Linked DNA regions of Homo sapiens: region 2 is linked to region 1. The links come from fine-mapping of genetic effects on gene expression. Tissue or cell type: whole blood. Region 1 holds a variant in brackets; the other region holds the start of a gene. Each region is shown on its reference strand, or each on the opposite one. Region 1 overlaps GFRA1 (GDNF family receptor alpha 1). Region 2 holds the start of NEXN (nexilin F-actin binding protein).

Evidence for each region. PIP is the estimated chance that this variant, and not a neighbour inherited with it, causes the effect.
Region 2: NEXN starts here. The variant in region 1 is the best candidate, but not a certain one, in a credible set for the expression of NEXN in whole blood (TOPMed, PIP 0.80).

Annotation. Positions count from the first base shown.
Region 1 is chr10:116,146,750-116,154,749 of GRCh38, forward strand. All of the region lies in intron 5 of GFRA1 (GDNF family receptor alpha 1), which reads right to left. Among named protein-coding and RNA genes, the nearest start is that of SNORD158, 44 kb to the right of the region's middle. The variant T/G (reference allele first, on the strand shown) is at 4,643.
Region 2 is chr1:77,884,097-77,892,096 of GRCh38, forward strand. NEXN (nexilin F-actin binding protein) reads left to right here and starts at 4,528. Exons shown (of 13, transcript NM_144573.4): 1 at 4,528-4,663. NEXN-AS1 (NEXN antisense RNA 1) reads right to left here and starts at 5,443. Exons shown (of 3, transcript NR_103535.1): 1 at 5,372-5,443; 2 at 3,504-5,172. RefSeq lists an enhancer at 4,473-4,532 and a silencer at 4,773-4,912.

The sequences.
Region 1 (8,000 bases):
CTGTCCAATCCTGCTGGACAGAAGGGAACGTGGAGGGAAGAAAGCTCAGAGTGAAAAGCGACAGTGATCTTCACCAATTGCAGTTAAATCTCTCACTTTTGCAAATTTTACAAATTTTTACAAAAACATATATTCATGTAAATGCACTACAAGGGCCTCTCCTAGGGCTTGTGGAAGGGAGGTGCCACAATCTTAAACTTCATTAGCTTCACAGGAAATACACCCCTGGGGATCATGGGATGAAAAAGGATCTGTAGTGAATTTATTTATTTATTTGTGTGTGTGTGTGTGTGTGAGAGAGAGAGAGAGATCAGATGCAAATATGTCAAAATGTTAACAATTTGATAAAGGTGGGCTTGTACATACATTTCTATTATTGTTGTTTACATTTGCTTGCATATTTGAAATGTTCCATTAAGAGGTAGAGATAGAAAAAGAGATAGAAACAGAGACAGAAACAGAGAACACGCTGAGTGCGCTTGTGTCCCGAAATCTCCTGGGGAACAGCTAATGGGAGTTCTGCAGAAATAGCTTTGAGAGAGCCCTTTGGCCCTAGGGGGAGGGGAGTAGTAGGAGGGGCAGCCTGACAGATCCTGTGGCAGCTGTCAGTCACCAAAGGTCAAGCGCATCTGCACAATTGGTTGGAGCTGGTGGTTCACACTGCACCATCTCATCTAAAAACACGCATGGTGATGAGTCCTTTTTTTTTCCTGGAAGACACTAGCTTATGCCCCAGCTCTTGACTCCCCACAGAAAGGGCTACCTGTTTTATCAAGAAAAAAGAAAGTGCTAGCGCCTAGTGTGACTCTGTCACCACAAGTCACTTCACGTCAGCTGGCACATGTCAAAGAATGACACAGAAAGCTGCCACCTGCCATCCTCACACAGAGCACATCAAACTTCTTTTTGTAGAACACTTCAACAGCAACCAAGAGAAAATTTCCTTTATGAACCACAGAGCCATCTCTGAATGAGAACGGAGGTGAAAGCTCCTTTCCTAGAACTGGAGACAACAGAAGAGGCAGCGACTCTGCAAAAGGTCTCAGGTTAAAAATAGACCCTCCGCTATTCTCACTCAAACCTCACGCACGCTCCTCCCCCAGATATCCGCTTCCGGGGGACCCCAGTGGAGGTGTCAGAAAGCCGCAGGTGGCTTTTTTTTGGAATACAAGTTGTAACATTTTCTGCCTAAAATGAAGTACAGTAGGATGTGATAGTTGAGATTCTTTTTACTGTGGTTTTATCTAGTGTGAAGGCAAAGAACGTGTGTGCGCGCATGCATGTGTGCATGTGCGTGTGTGCATGCATGTGTGCATGCGTGTGTGCATGTGTGTGTGTGCATGCGTGTGTGCATGCATGGGTGTGTGTGCATGTGTGTGGGGTGGGGGGTAGGGACTGTTGAGAATTTTGCCTTTTGTCTTCCGGTTTCACCTTACAACACTTTAAAATAGTTACTAAGAATTAAAAACTTCAGGGCCAAATGTGACCTCAGAGAGAATCTAGTCCAATATTCTAATTTAAAGGTGAGGCACAGCAGTTAGCTAGCTAATAGCAGAGTCAGGAGAAGAACCCAGAACTTCTTCCCATAGCTGGAAGCATGTGTGGTGTGCAGTGATTGAGGGTGAAGACTCTCAACAGGACTCCCAGGGCTGTACCCCACTTCTGACCCCTGTGATCATGCAAATGTGAGCAAGTCATTCACCTCTGTGCCTCCATTTCCTCATCTGTGAAGTGGGGATATGATAATAACAGTACAAACCTCAGGGGTTGTTTTAATGATTAAATGAGATAATATATGCCTAGCACATAGCAGACGCCAATAGTCTTGGCTGTTGTTAGTTTTATCATTCACCAGTCACTTGCTTCTTCCACCCTGCCAGGACTCCCACGCTCAAAAGATTGTTCCAGAATGAGCTTTACTAGGGGGTACATATGGACAGCCTCATAAATATAAAATGATCATTTCCATGTGATGGCTTTTTTGAAGTAATTGGCTTTGATCTTAAGAAGAATAATCATTAAATACAAGAAGAAGCTTATTCCAGGGCACGAAGAAAAGAGAAGAAGGATGAGAGAATGAAGAGCTGGCTGAACTAAAAATGGGACAAGTGAGAAAAATGCAGCTGTATTCTAATGGGATCAATTTTTAACTTGATTCAAATTAAATTTCAAGCACCTTATTTTTTAAAGAAAAGAAATTGTTTTAATAACAAGAGCACACTGGGTCTAAGGACTGTTGTACACATTCAGAAAAGGGACTGGCTGGACACTGTCACCTCCCATATGCCCCACAAGCCTGTTGGCAATGAGCAGTAAGTTCTCTGGATCAACTACCTCCAACATTAGACACATCTTTAAAATATGCTTCCAGGATGCTCCTGGAAAACAGGAGATGTTATAGCCAATTATTGAGGATCTCAACATGCTCGAGAATACTTAGGGTATAACAATGAAGTCATTACTCTTTATCTCCTTGAATTCCAAGAAAGCAAGAAATAGCAGCACAATAAAAAATCCTTCATAACAGTTGATTAGAAAATATGGCCTGCAGAAAATCAAGCTCTTTGCACATTAAAAATCCAAACATGTTAGAGAAACAGGGATTTTTAGCCCCCCACAGCTTTAACACAAAAGCTCACATTAATAAGATACAATTTGGATTTGCATTTTTTAATAAGCTAGGGATCAAAGGGAACACATAGCTGAAGGGGTGTTAAGCTGTGTTCACGAAAACTGCTCACTACACACTGGAGGAAGAAGATACATTCCCCCCTGTAGGAAGACACCTATAATTTTAGAAATATAAAACGTATTCTCTCGTTGATACATCATTACTGATGAACAATTTCCAAGCATTTTGAATAAGTTCAGGTAGATTTCACCTGCCTGTCTACCTAATGGACTCAGTCTATCTTAATGATACAGATTCCAATGATTTAATTGAGGACATCCATGAAGGAATTGATGTAGGACTTTCCCTCCTATGTACATTTTAGTTATATAAAAACAAGTACCAGTCCCTTAATTCCTCAGGCTGGGTAGGATATGAGTGTGGCTTCCTATTATCAAACCATTATGATTAAAAACAAGACCACTATTATTTTAAAGCTTGAAATCAGGGTACCAAGGGATGGGAGAGACTCATGCAGAAACGCTCCTTCTTAGTATGTTCCAAGCACTCCGCAAAGGATCCCTGGAAGGCAGATGCAGTTATATCCTTCTAGAGCTTAATTATTAATATTTGCTGATGGCTTACTATATGTCCAACATAGTACCAACTCACCACTCTTCATGGATTCTTCTTTCGACACTGTTCCTCCATTTTCAAAGCAAGGAAGTGGAGGCCCAGAAAGGCTAAGTGGTAGGGCTGCAGTTTGAATTCAGGCAGATGAACACCAGCACTAACCTCTGGGTCTGCTGCATTCCTGAAGGCCTAGTTACTCCTCCTCTCCCACTACCACCACCCTCCAAGCCATCCCAATAGTGGTCCTTGGAGTCCAGATGGTGCCTCCTCCTTCCACTTTGATAACCGAGCTTCCTCTAACTAATGTCCTTGCTGTCACATTGCTCTTCCTTAAAAAAAAACTCTGGCCCTACTTCATTTCCATCAGGAACATTCCCAGATCAGGCTGGTCAGCCTTTCCTGCTGCAGTTCCCGGTCAATATGTGATCTCTTAGGTGGGAGTCATGGAAATGCTTCTGAGGGGTCTCATAGGACATGCCCCTCTGGGTGTTTGAACAGCCCATGCCTTTCTAAGAACGGTTTCCCATGTAACTGTTTTCCTGTCTGCCCCAAGAATATTCACCAGTGGCACTTGTGGCTGCAGCGTTTACCCTGAGATAACTTTGCCATGAAATATCTTGCTTTTATTATTATTTTTGCATCACTCTAGTATATTGACTTTGGAAACAAAACATCGTTTTATTTATAGCATTCTGTTTTTAGTAGTGGAATTTCCACTTACAAAATATAGTAATTCTCAATTGCTGAAAAATGCCAAATCCTAGAAAATGTAGCATCCCTACACGTGATGTTAACATTGTTCCCGAACAGTTGTTGGCCAAAAATTCATTTGATGAATCTGATTTTTTTCTGAAATAGACGATTCAGATGATTCAGATGTTAGTTCTGTTTAGAAATAACTCCAGGAACAGTTTTTATATTTTATTTTCGCATCGAAAATCAGTCAGATTTGCTTCAGCCTCAAAGAGCATGTTTATGTAGGATTAAATGAGCACTGGCATTGAGCTGCACTTTTTTTTTTTTCTAAACGGGAAAAAGGGTTAAAGAACATCCCCTGGGAGTCCTTCCCATGAGCCACATCTGACTAAACTGGGCTCACCACCTGGATCAATGGAATACTTTTCTCCCAGAAACCTGGTACTGCTACTCTCTGTGGACTGCTTACTGTTGGAACAGATATCAAGGCAAGCATCTGTACAAGCTCCAGGCATGCTTTCTGCTCCTAGGTTTCCAGAGACATGCCTAGGTTCTTACTCCTCTCTGTGAATGAAGCAAGTTGGGTTGGCCTCTGTTAGCCACAATCAAGAAACCAGTGACTAAGAAACATTCCAAGGGGACACTCTGGCAGTTTATGTTACTGAATTGGTGACATGAGGAAACCCCTGGCAGAGATGTCAG[T/G]AACCCCCACACCTGTTAGAAGGCCAAATGGGGAAGGGGCACCCCACTACATCACCACCACTGACTCTTCTCTTGGGGGGATGTAGCCAATGATCATTAACTAGAGACTAGAGAAGTAACTTTAGTCATTGGATAAAATGGAATTTAAGGAGAGACTTGAATGAAAACATAGATCTGCTGGGGAGTTGAGGGGCTGTAAGCTCCAATGGGAAAATAGAGGGAAGAGGGAGAGCCCCTATGGAATTTGCAAATGACATAGAACGGGGCACCAGGAACTGATGGTTACCAAGGGGAGGAAGCAGGAGGATACGCACCACACAGTGAAGACCTGGCAGACCATTGGCCTTAAGGATAGCCAATGGCCATTCATTTCTTTGTTTATTGAGGATCGACTGTGTTCCTGAAATAAGGCATACAGTTTAGATACTAGTGGAAGAGAGAAGCCAGGCAAACAAGCAAATAAATGAACAAGATTCATTTTATGGAGGAAATAATATGATAAATGAGGAGTTGACTCTTCTACTCCACTTTAGGGAGAGTAATCAGGGAAGAGCTCCCTGAGAGGTGACTTGAGAGGTGGAGTGAGTTGAGGCAAGCCCTAGGGCAGGGAAAAGCTTGGTGATTTGAAGAAATGATTAAGGAGACTGCTGTGTCTGGAGCATAGCGTGTGAGTGGACAGTGGTAGGAAACCAGGTGGGAAAGGCTGATGGGGCAAGATTAGACACTGATTCATCTGTGTGGAAAGGAGTTTGGATATGATTCTAAGTGCAATGGGAAATCACGATTCGATTCATGTTTTAAAGAGATAATTTTAATGGATGGGCATGATGATGTAAGATGGACCAGAGAGGAAGCAGGAGCACCAGTTTGGAGGGTATTGCAATAAGCCAGTACCCCACGCTGTGGAATCACACATCACCGTCTTCACAACCTTTTAGAAACGTTCACCAGAAAGCACATGCACACTGTATCCATCTGTTCTTGTGTTGCTATAAAGAAGTACCTGAGGCTGGGCTCAGGAAGCTTACAGTCATGGTGGAAGGCAAAGGGGAGCAGGTGGTGTCACATGGTGGGAGTAGGGGCAAGAGGCCCAGCAGAGGGCAGGGACCAGAATCTTAAGCAACCAGATTTCATGTGTACTGAGTGACAACTCACTCATCACCAATGCGATGGTGTTAAACCATTCACGAGGGATCTGCCCGCCTGACCCAATCACCTCCCACCAGGCCCCACCTCCAATATTGGAAATCACATTTCAACATGCGATTCAGACGAACAAACATCCAAACCATATCACATGCCCTCAGCAGCAGTTGGGTATGCTCCGATTTAAATATCCAAGGAAGTGTCTTTTGTTTTGATGATGTTTCAAACTCACACACATTTGTGACCATGATCACAAGGCAAAGATGTGCTGTGAACTTCTTAAAAGAATTTGGGTTTCTTTTAGTATCTGCTACATTAGATTTGCTAAGCTGATGACATTTTAGTATTCAGCAAGTAATTACTGTTTATTAGGAAGACAGTAGATGACAAGTGCTTTTATTGAGCACTGAACTGTGTGTCAGAGCTGGACTAAGTGTGTTATAAACCTGATCTTATTTAATGGTTAGAGCAACGAACCATCCATCCATCCATGCATCCATCTATCCATCCATCCATTCATCCATCCAACAAATAAAAACTCCGAGGGGGCCTCCTTATTGTCCCAATTTTACAGATCAAGAAATAGGCTGAGGTAGTTAAGGGATTTGTTTAACACTACAAAGCCAGTCATCTATGAAGTTCTAGAGCCAGGAGACTGGGTTTAGAGGTTGGACACGAAGGTTCTCAAATGTTGCAGAGACAGAATGAGCTACACTCTGACTGATAAACAAAGAATGAAGCATTTCCCAGAGCACCCAGGGTTACCATTTCACCATCCTTCCTCCCTTTATACATCTTTCTGGAATTTCTAGAGCAAGAGTAGGTTTGTGCACGTGAGGACTAGGATACATGTGAAAAGTGATCAATCTCCCATGGTTACCTGGTCAGGGTCAAGCCTTTGCAGAGCAACAGGCTTTGTCAACTACATCCCACTTAAATGACCCCAGAGTTCCTGACAGGTTGAGTGCTGTCTGCTGGTTTAGAAATTAAACCACCACTGCCTTAAAACATTATTTTTTGGCTAGCTTCCATTTATTTGAGAATCCTTTAAAAAGTAGTGGCTTGACCAAGTGTGGACATAAACAATATAGCTTCTAAGAAATGAGAAACTATAAGAAATGAGAAACTATATTAATGACTTGGAGTAAGCAAAGATTTCTTCAATAAAATGCAAAGAATGCCTAGCATAAGGGAAAACTGATAAATTGGACTGCATTAAGTAAACTTCTGTTCATCAAATGATACCATTTGAAAAGTGAAAGGCAAGCTACCACATAGGAGGAGACATTTTTAATACATTTATCTGACAAAGGACTTATATCCAGATTTTATAAGCACTCTATAAATCAATCAGAAAAAGACAAGCAACCCAATAAAAAGAAATAATAATAAGGAAAGCACTCAAACATGCATTTCAAAAAGAGAACATTTAAATGGGCAAAGAAACATGCAGAAATGTGCTTAACATCATTACATCAGGGAAATGTAAAATAAAACCATAGTGAGATACCACTACACACCCACCAAGATGGCTAAAATGAAGAGACAAAAACAAACATGAGTGTGTCCATCCATCACTCTTACAATCTGCTGGTGGGAGTGCCAATTGGTAGGACCACTTCGGAAGTCTAAACTGTCTGGCAGTACTAAAGCTGAATATAAGCATTCTCTTACGACCTGGCAATTTTACTCAACAGGAATGTGTCTATACGTTCACCAAAAGACACAAATGAGAATTTTCATTGCTGCTTGATTTATAGCCCCAAACTGGATACGACCAAATATCCAACTGTAGAAAGGATAAACTGCAATGTAGTCATACGATAGAAAAACATACAGCAATTAAAATTAACAAATTATTGCTATATGCAACATCATGACTGAGTCCTATGAACTCATGTTGGGCAAAAGAAGCCAGTCTCAAAAAGTATATATTTTATTATTCCATTTATATAAAGTTCAAACAGGCAAACTTAATCCATGCTGACAGAAGGCAGAATGGTGGCTACCTTTGTGGGGAAAGTGACTAGAAGGAGTTAGGAGGGTGCTTCTGGATCCTGGTCATGCTTTATTTCTCCATTGGCTGGGCTTCAACAGCTGTGTTCACTTTGTAAAACTGCATCTAGCTGTATAGTTATGATTTGTTCACTATTCTGTGAATGGCAACTGAAGTTAACTTTAAAAATAGTGACTCCTAATGCCTTCATCACAA
Region 2 (8,000 bases), not on the chromosome of region 1:
ATCTCAAACTTAGCATGTCAAAACTGAGCTCCTTACCACCCCTGCCTAAACCTCCTCTTCCCACAACCTTCCCTATCTGAGTAAATTACAACTCCATTCTTCCAGATCAAAGGCCCAAAACCTCCTTTCCTCACACCTCACATTCAGTTACAAAAAAAAAAAAAAAAAAAATCCTACCATTTCTACCTAAAAAGGCAACAAGGAAAAAAAAATATGCCAGGTATTTCTCACTACCTTCACAACTATCACTTTGGCCCAAATCCCCATTCCTCATTCCGATTATTGTGGAAGCCTCCTAATTAATTGATCTCCCTGCTTCTTCTCTTGCCTCATTTGGTGTATGTGCAGCACTTAAGCTAGAGAGAGTAAACATGTCAGATCATGTCACTATGTTGTTCAAAACCTACCAGAGACCACCCATGTTAGAGTAAAAACCAAAATCTTTACAATGCTGTACAAAAAGAGGCTGGGCACAATGGCTCATGCCTATTATCCCTACTCTCTGGGAGGCCGAAGTGGGAGGATGCTTAAGCCCAGGAGTTTGAGACCAACCCAGGCAACATAATAAGACCCCATTTCTACAAAAACTAAAAAATTAGCCAGGTGTGTTGTTGCATGCCTGTAGTCCCAGCTACTCAGAGAAGCTGTGGCAGGAGGATCGCTTGAGCCCAGAAGTTAGAGGCTGCGGTGAGCTGTGATTCCACCACTGCACTCCAGCCTGGGTCTCTAAAAAAAAAAAAAAAGGCCAGGCATGTTGGTTTACGCCTGTAATCCCAACACTTTAGGAGGCCGAGGTAGACGGATCACCTGAGGTCAGGAGTTTGAGACCAGCCTGGCCAATATGGTGAAACCCCATCTCTACTAAAAATACAGAAATTAGCCGGGCATGGTGACAGGTGCCTGTAATCCCAGCTACTCGGGAGTCTGAGGGAAGAGAATCGCTTGAACCCAGGAGGCGGAGGTTGCAGTGAGCAGAGTTTATGCTACTGCACTCCAGCCTGGGCGACAGAGCGAGACTTATTCTCAAACAAACAAAATCCTACGTAGTCTTGTCTCCTGCTCCCCACTGCACCTCCTATTACCTCACCCTTCACCTACTCAGCTTCACTCGCACAAGCCTCCTGGTTCTTCCTAGAACATGTCAGATAGAATCCTTCTCTGGGCCTTTGTATCTATCCCTGGACCACTCTTCCTCCAAATATTTGCTTCTCCAGATATTTACATAGCCTACTGCCTCACTCTCCTCAAGGCTTTTACTCATATGAGGCTTTCCTTAGCCACTCTATCTAAAATTACAACATCTACTCAGCCTGCCTCCAGCATTCTCTACTTCCCTGCTCTGGTATTATCCATATTGCCATATTACATGTCACTAAATACTACATAGTTCACTTATTTGCTTATTGTCTGCCTTCTTTCACTAGAATGTATGTTCCATAATGGCAGGGATTTTTCCTTTATCACTGCTGTATCCTTAGCATATAGAACTGAATATCTGTTGAATGAATGAATGATGAATTGGTGGGAAAATAAGCAGGCCTTGCATGCTGTGAGTAGCTATCAGTGTTCTACAGAGAGAATGGAGAGCTTTGTTTAATCTGGTGAATCTATTGGGTGGATATAAAAATAAAAAATTGTTAAGTTTCTAGTTATTTATTTATTTATTATTTTTTGAGACAGAGTCTCACTCTGTCGCCCAGACTGGAGTGCAGTGGCATGATCTCGGCTCACTGCAACCTCCACCTCCTGGTTTCAAGCAATTCTCCTGCCTCAGCCTCCCGAGTAGCTGGGACTACAGGTGCACGCTACCACACTCAGCTAATTTTTATATTTTTAGTAGAGACAGGATTTCGCCATGTTGGCCAGGCTGGTCTCGAACTCCTGACCTCAAGTGATCCACCCGCTTCAGCCTCCCAAAGTGCTGGGATTACAGGCGTGAGACACCATGCTCAGCCAACTCACTTCTTTAAATCACAGAAATAAATATGTAATTATAAATTGATATGTATAGGGGCAGGGCACAGTGGCTCACACCTGTAATCCCAGCACTTTGCGAGGCCGAGGTGGGTGGATCACTTGAGGGCAGGAGTTCAAGACCAGCCTGGCCAACATGGTGAAACCCCATCTCCACTAAAAATACAAAAAGTAGCCAGGTGTGGTGGCACGCGCCTGTAATCCCAGCTACTTTTGAGTCAGGAGAATCGATTGAACTGGGGAAGCGGAGGTTGCAGTGAGCTGAGATCGTGCCACTGCACTCCAGCCTGGGCGACGGAGCGAGACTACATCTCCAAATAAATAAATAAATAAATAAATAAATAAATAAATAAATAAGCAAATAAATAGGAATATATATATATAGGGAAGAGAAAGGTGGGATGAAAGGTGAGGTGCAAGGTGGGGAGAAAGGTGGGATGCAAGGAAGCCTTCTCCGAGGAAGCAGCATTTAAGAAGAGATCGGGAGGATATGTTGAAGTTAGGTGAAGGGGAAAGTGGGAGAAAGGATTTCATGCAGGGAACAACTTATACAAAGGCCCTGCAGCCAGACTGCCCATAGAAAGTTTCATGAACTGAAGAAGGCCAAGGTGATGGCATCAAAGAGAGCAAGGGCACAAGCAAGACTACCAAGACCACCTATCACTATCCGTAGTTCGGTACATTTAAATAATTTTAATTACCAATTTTGAACTTTTCTGTAATCGAGGAATGAATGGCTTACCCTCCTTAGAAAAGTTTCCATCCTGAGTAAATACTGTGGGGATGGGACTGGGGAACAGAGTTATATTTGAGTAGAAGGCCTTTTGTGTGTACGGGTGTGAGAGAGAGAGAAACAGAGAGAGAGAGGGAGTTTCACTCTTGTTGCTCACGCTGGAGTGCAATGGCGCCATCTCAGCTCACAGCAACCTCAGCCTCCCGGGTTCAAGCGAAGTGGGTTCTTCAACCTCAGCCTCCCAGGTAGCTGGGATCACAGGCGCACGTCACCACGCCCGGCTAATTTTTTGCATTTTTAGTAGAGATAGAGTTTCACCATGTTGGCCAGGCTGGTCGCAAACTCCTGACCTCAGGTGATCCACCCGCCTTGGCCTCCCAAAGTGCTGGGATTACAGGCAGGAGCCACCGCGCCCGGCCTTTTTTTTTTTTTTTGGAGACAGAGTCTCATTTTGTCACCCAGACTGGAGTGCAGTGGGATGATCTCTGCTCACTGCAACCTCCGCCTCCTGGCTTCAAGTGATTCTCCTGCCTCAGCCTCCTGAGTAACTCAGATTACAGGTGTGTGCCTCCACACTAGGCTAATTTTTTGTATTTTTAGTAAAGACGGCCTTTTGCCATGTTGGTCAGGCTGGTCTTGAATTCCTGACCTCAAGTGATCCACCCGCCTCGGCCTCCCAAAGTGCGGGGATCACAGGCATGAGCCACCGCGCCCAGCCCAGAAGGCCTTTTCAACATCCCTGAAATATAACCTGAGCACCGCTGTCTGCTTAGGGCCTGAAGGTGGAAGTGGTTACCTTTATTCTTTATCTGGATGTCATTTCGATTTTTTTTTCAAGTGCAGTGAAGAATTAAAGATCTCGTCCACCAAAAATACTCCGAGTGTGCATTTCGGGTTTTAATATGGTATTGTCTGATGGGTTTGACAGGCTGGCGGTCCAAGTTGAAAAAGGTCTGTGGGTGTCTAATAGTCAAAGATGCCTTTATGAAGCTTTAGAAAGACCAGATATGGTTTGCCTTCAATTAAGAAAAAGGTGGAATATAAAGATATTTGTACTTATATAAATATATTCCTTCTTTTCTTCTCCTCCTCCTCCTCTGCCTTCAACTTTCTTCTTCTTCTTCTTCTTCTTCTTCTTCTTCTTCTTCTTCTTCTTCTTCTTCTTCTTCTTCTTCTTCTTCTTCTTCTTCTTCTTCTTCTTCTTCTTTTTTAACTCTCCTTTTAGAGTTAAAGACTGGAGCTAAGAACAGGGGAGCAATAGACAGATGAAGTGTTCCCGGATTGCTGCCCCACGCTCTTTGTAATAAAGGAAAACTTGGCCAAAGGTCAATGCTTAGGGTAGTAGAAGATATGTAGTGGCTTGGCTTCTTGACTGGAAACTAGGACGGGTAGAGTAGCTGAGAGAAGTGGGCCCCAGAGCAAACTGGTTGCGGGTAGGGGGAGCCAGCTTCAGCCCGGTAATGAAGCCCATTTCAGCCTCATTCCTTTCCCATGGCGGAGGCAGCCTTCCTTCCCCAGGCCTGGCTGGAGGTGGAGGCAGGCCCAAAGTTAGGGGGTCAGCTCGCGCACCTAGGGCCGGGAGACAGACAAATTCTGGCGGAAAGTTGGCAGCCACGGTCCCCCTCCCCTGCTTTTCTCCTCAACTCTCCACCCCCACTCCGGGTGATAACGGCGGAGGTGGGGGGTTGGGGGAACTGGCCTTGTGTTTTGGAACAGCTGCAGCCGGCGCTGGGCCCGCCTGGAATGCGGGAACAGGCTGCACACCAGGACTTTTATGGAAACTTGCTGCTGGAGACGGCGGCGGCGGCGGCGGCAGCGGCAGCCAGAGGACTCCCAGCGGCTGGAGCAGAAGTGTTAGCGGCCAGAGCTCCCAGACCCCTACCCACAGCCAGGCGGGACGCGCACAGTCCCTCCACGCGGAAAGAAGTACCTTCGCCGGTCACCGGCTCCTGCAGGGTGAGAAGAGTTGGGGGAACGTGGGCTGGGGGGAGTGGAGACGGAGGTGTCGGGTCCCCTGGTGGGGGCGGGGGCGGGAACGGCGGCTGCAGAGAGGCGCTCGGGGTCTGCGGCTTCTGGCCGTGCTCCGCTGCAGCTCCGGAGGGCGCCGGGCGCCATACAGCTGTGGTCCGCGCTGGCCCCGGCCCGGGCGAACCCTGCCTTGGAGCCGCATCCTGCGGGCTCGGCGGGGTGCCTACCAGGGGCTGCCCCAGGGTCTGAAAGTGTCGGCCGGCCTTGGGCTTCTGGTTGCAATGTCTTTGCCCTGCTCCCCTGCGCCTTGTCGGCTGAGTTTCGGGTGCGTTCCCTACTGTAGGGAGGGAGCCCTCTGTGAGCGGAGTGGGTGCCGATCCCTCGGCTGAACCCTTGGGGTCCTTAGGGAAGTTCAGTGCCGTCCCCCACCACTTGCCCCAGCCGCGGTCTCCGTCTCTGCCAGCAGTGCCAGTTAAGAAATCCTTTCTGATCGGTCTCTGTGGAAGATGGGGAGAAATATGATTTAACAGCCTATTACTCCCCCCCCACACCCCCGCATATCCCCCCACTCCTGTCTCCAACCCTTTTTTTTTTTTTTTTCGTGATTCTGCCCGAGGTGGGATGCTGGGGGTTGAGCAACTAGGGCTGGAAGTTTACGAAGTTTACGTAGTTTAAGTGAGTGAAGAATGTAGTCACCTCTTGAGAACTCCCTTTGCCTATATGCTTTTGAAAACGCCAAACCATTCCAGCTGTTTGTAAATTGTGAAACGTTCTACAAATGCATTAGCATTGGCATTTATAAAGAAAATGACGAAGTTGAGAGGTTATAGTTGGTTACTGCAGTGACTTAGAGATGCTCATTTTATAGTTATTAAAGCACAACGTGAACCAAGTTGGCAGAGAGATAACAAGGTAAAAATAGCATAAGGATATGTCCTAACAAAATGTCCTTGGTGAAGACACAGGTAGAGAAAAGAAGCCATAATAAAGAAATTAGTTCCCTGACCAAAACAACGGGAATATCATTCATCGTTAAATTTTGTTAATGAATTCATGTAGCAGCGGCCCATTGGCCTTCGAGTCACAACATAACTATGTCTTAGGTAATGTGATTAAATAAACTTAAGTATTTATACTTAAGTTCATATCTTAGTCACACGTTATTTATATCTTAGTCACACGTTATTGAGTGGACCACATAATTTCCCCCGCTAAACATTATCCTTTACAGGTTAAACTGCTGCAGTTAGAAAACTTTGTCTCAAATTCTTTTGAGTTTGGGGTATTGTTAAGAAAAAATGCATAATTAATCAAATGAGAGAAAGGTTTTTTGGGGGGAGGTATAATTTGTATAAGTAAACTTTGATTAACCAATGTAGCTGTTTAAGTTTCTTCTTCCTTACAATTAACACCGTATTTTTGCAGATATTTTATATTTTGACTAATGCTTCTGAGGAACAATTTAAAGAAAAATGCATGCAATTATGTAGTTTATCTGCAATTCCCTTAAAGAATTCTAAGCTAAAACCACAACAAAATTATTTTAAATCCAGTTTTCCTCATCATAGTTACAATGTAATCCAGTTTTAATAAAAGATTCATATTTTAAAATCCATTTTCAATTGAAATGTAATGAATAGCAATTGTTCCTGCTCACCTTAAAATGGAATTTGTGCTATTTTTGAAAATTTGACATGTAAGGCTGATCATTGTCAAAATGTATGTCATCTTGAGATGACTATATTTAGCATCAACAAAGGAATGCATTATCTAGGTTTTTGAACAGTCTTTTTCCCCTGAAATTTCACTTGAAGTATTTAGGTTAGGGTTTCATTTTTGAGCAGAATAAAAACTAAATATGCATATTTGGAAGACATTAATTGGGGATTCAGATTGCTTAGAATCTGAGCGGCCTATAATGACATACTTCATTTATTAAAAAAAATACCTGTTATCTTTGAAATACCCTAAAAGACAAAAAAAAGGGGGATTATTTAAATATGAGAGTTGTGCACACCTAAAAGAAAGAAAATAATGCAGTGAATGTGGAAAAGTATGTAACAGACAGGTAAAAGTCTAAACGTTTTTATAGAAGAGAGGACTGTTATTTTATAGTTATGTAGGCCACACACACACAGAACATCTTGGTAGTTTATAATTTGGAGAGAAAATGATTTATAACATTCTTAACAATTTCACATATTTCTGTTCTTATTTAATCAATCTGCGGTCCATATCACCTGTGTAGTTTCTTTCATGTTCTCTTTCTGGGTTTATAATTGCATAGTTACATATTATATACATTTGAAATGGCTACATTTTCCTTTATTATTTAAATATTCAGTGTATAGTTTGGCTTAATTTATAGTAGTTTACTTTCTATACTCCAGGGTGGGTGGATTTGTACCCAGAAATCCACCTTAAATTTTAGTTTAATTTGTATTATAATGTTAATACACCATGTTATATTTATGGTTAAAAATTATGGAGAATGGAAAAAGGGGCTCTTGTAATCTGACACTCTTACTGTTAGGATTTTGATGTATTTCCTTTAAGTCTTTTTCCCATGCATAGAACTCTTTCTTTTTGCATTGACATATCTCAATAAAACAACATGTGAAAGCATCCCATGCAGTGTCTGCCATCCAGTAAGTGCTCAACAGGTGATTCTTTTTCTTCCTCCTTTATTTCCTTCTTGACATCTCTTCCTTTTTACTCTTAGATTAGAAGACAAGCAGATTGGGGCTCCCTATATGAGGTTTCAAGGTTGGTGAAATTCACTTCTCACCGTCCATCCTGGGCCTCTTCCCTGTCTTTTCTTCCCCTTCACTCTTTCTGGCCAAAATAGGCCTCCCCTTTGACCCTTTCCATTTTGTCAGTGTTGTCTATTCATTTAGACTAAGGCTATGGCAGTCAAAAAGTCGACAGTCAAAAAGACACCTTTTACTTCCTGATTACCAAGTGTGGAAAAAAAGTAAAAAAAAAAAAAAAAAAAAAAATCAAAAACAAAAAAGACACTTTTGGGGCTGGGTGTGGTGGCTCATGCCTGTAATCCAAGCACTTTGGGAGGCTGAGGCGAGAGGATCCCTTGAGCCCAGGAGTTCAGGACCAGGCCTGGCAACATAGTGAGACCCACCCCCATCTCTACAAAAAATTTAAAAATTAGCCAGATGTGGTGGTGCATGCCTGTAGTCCCAACTACCTGGGAGGCCGAGGCAGGAGGATTGCTTGAGCTCAGGAGGCTGAGGCTGCAGTGCACCGTGCTTGTACCACTGCACTCCAGCCTAAGCAACAGAGTGAGGCTCTGTGTCAAAAAAAAAAAAGA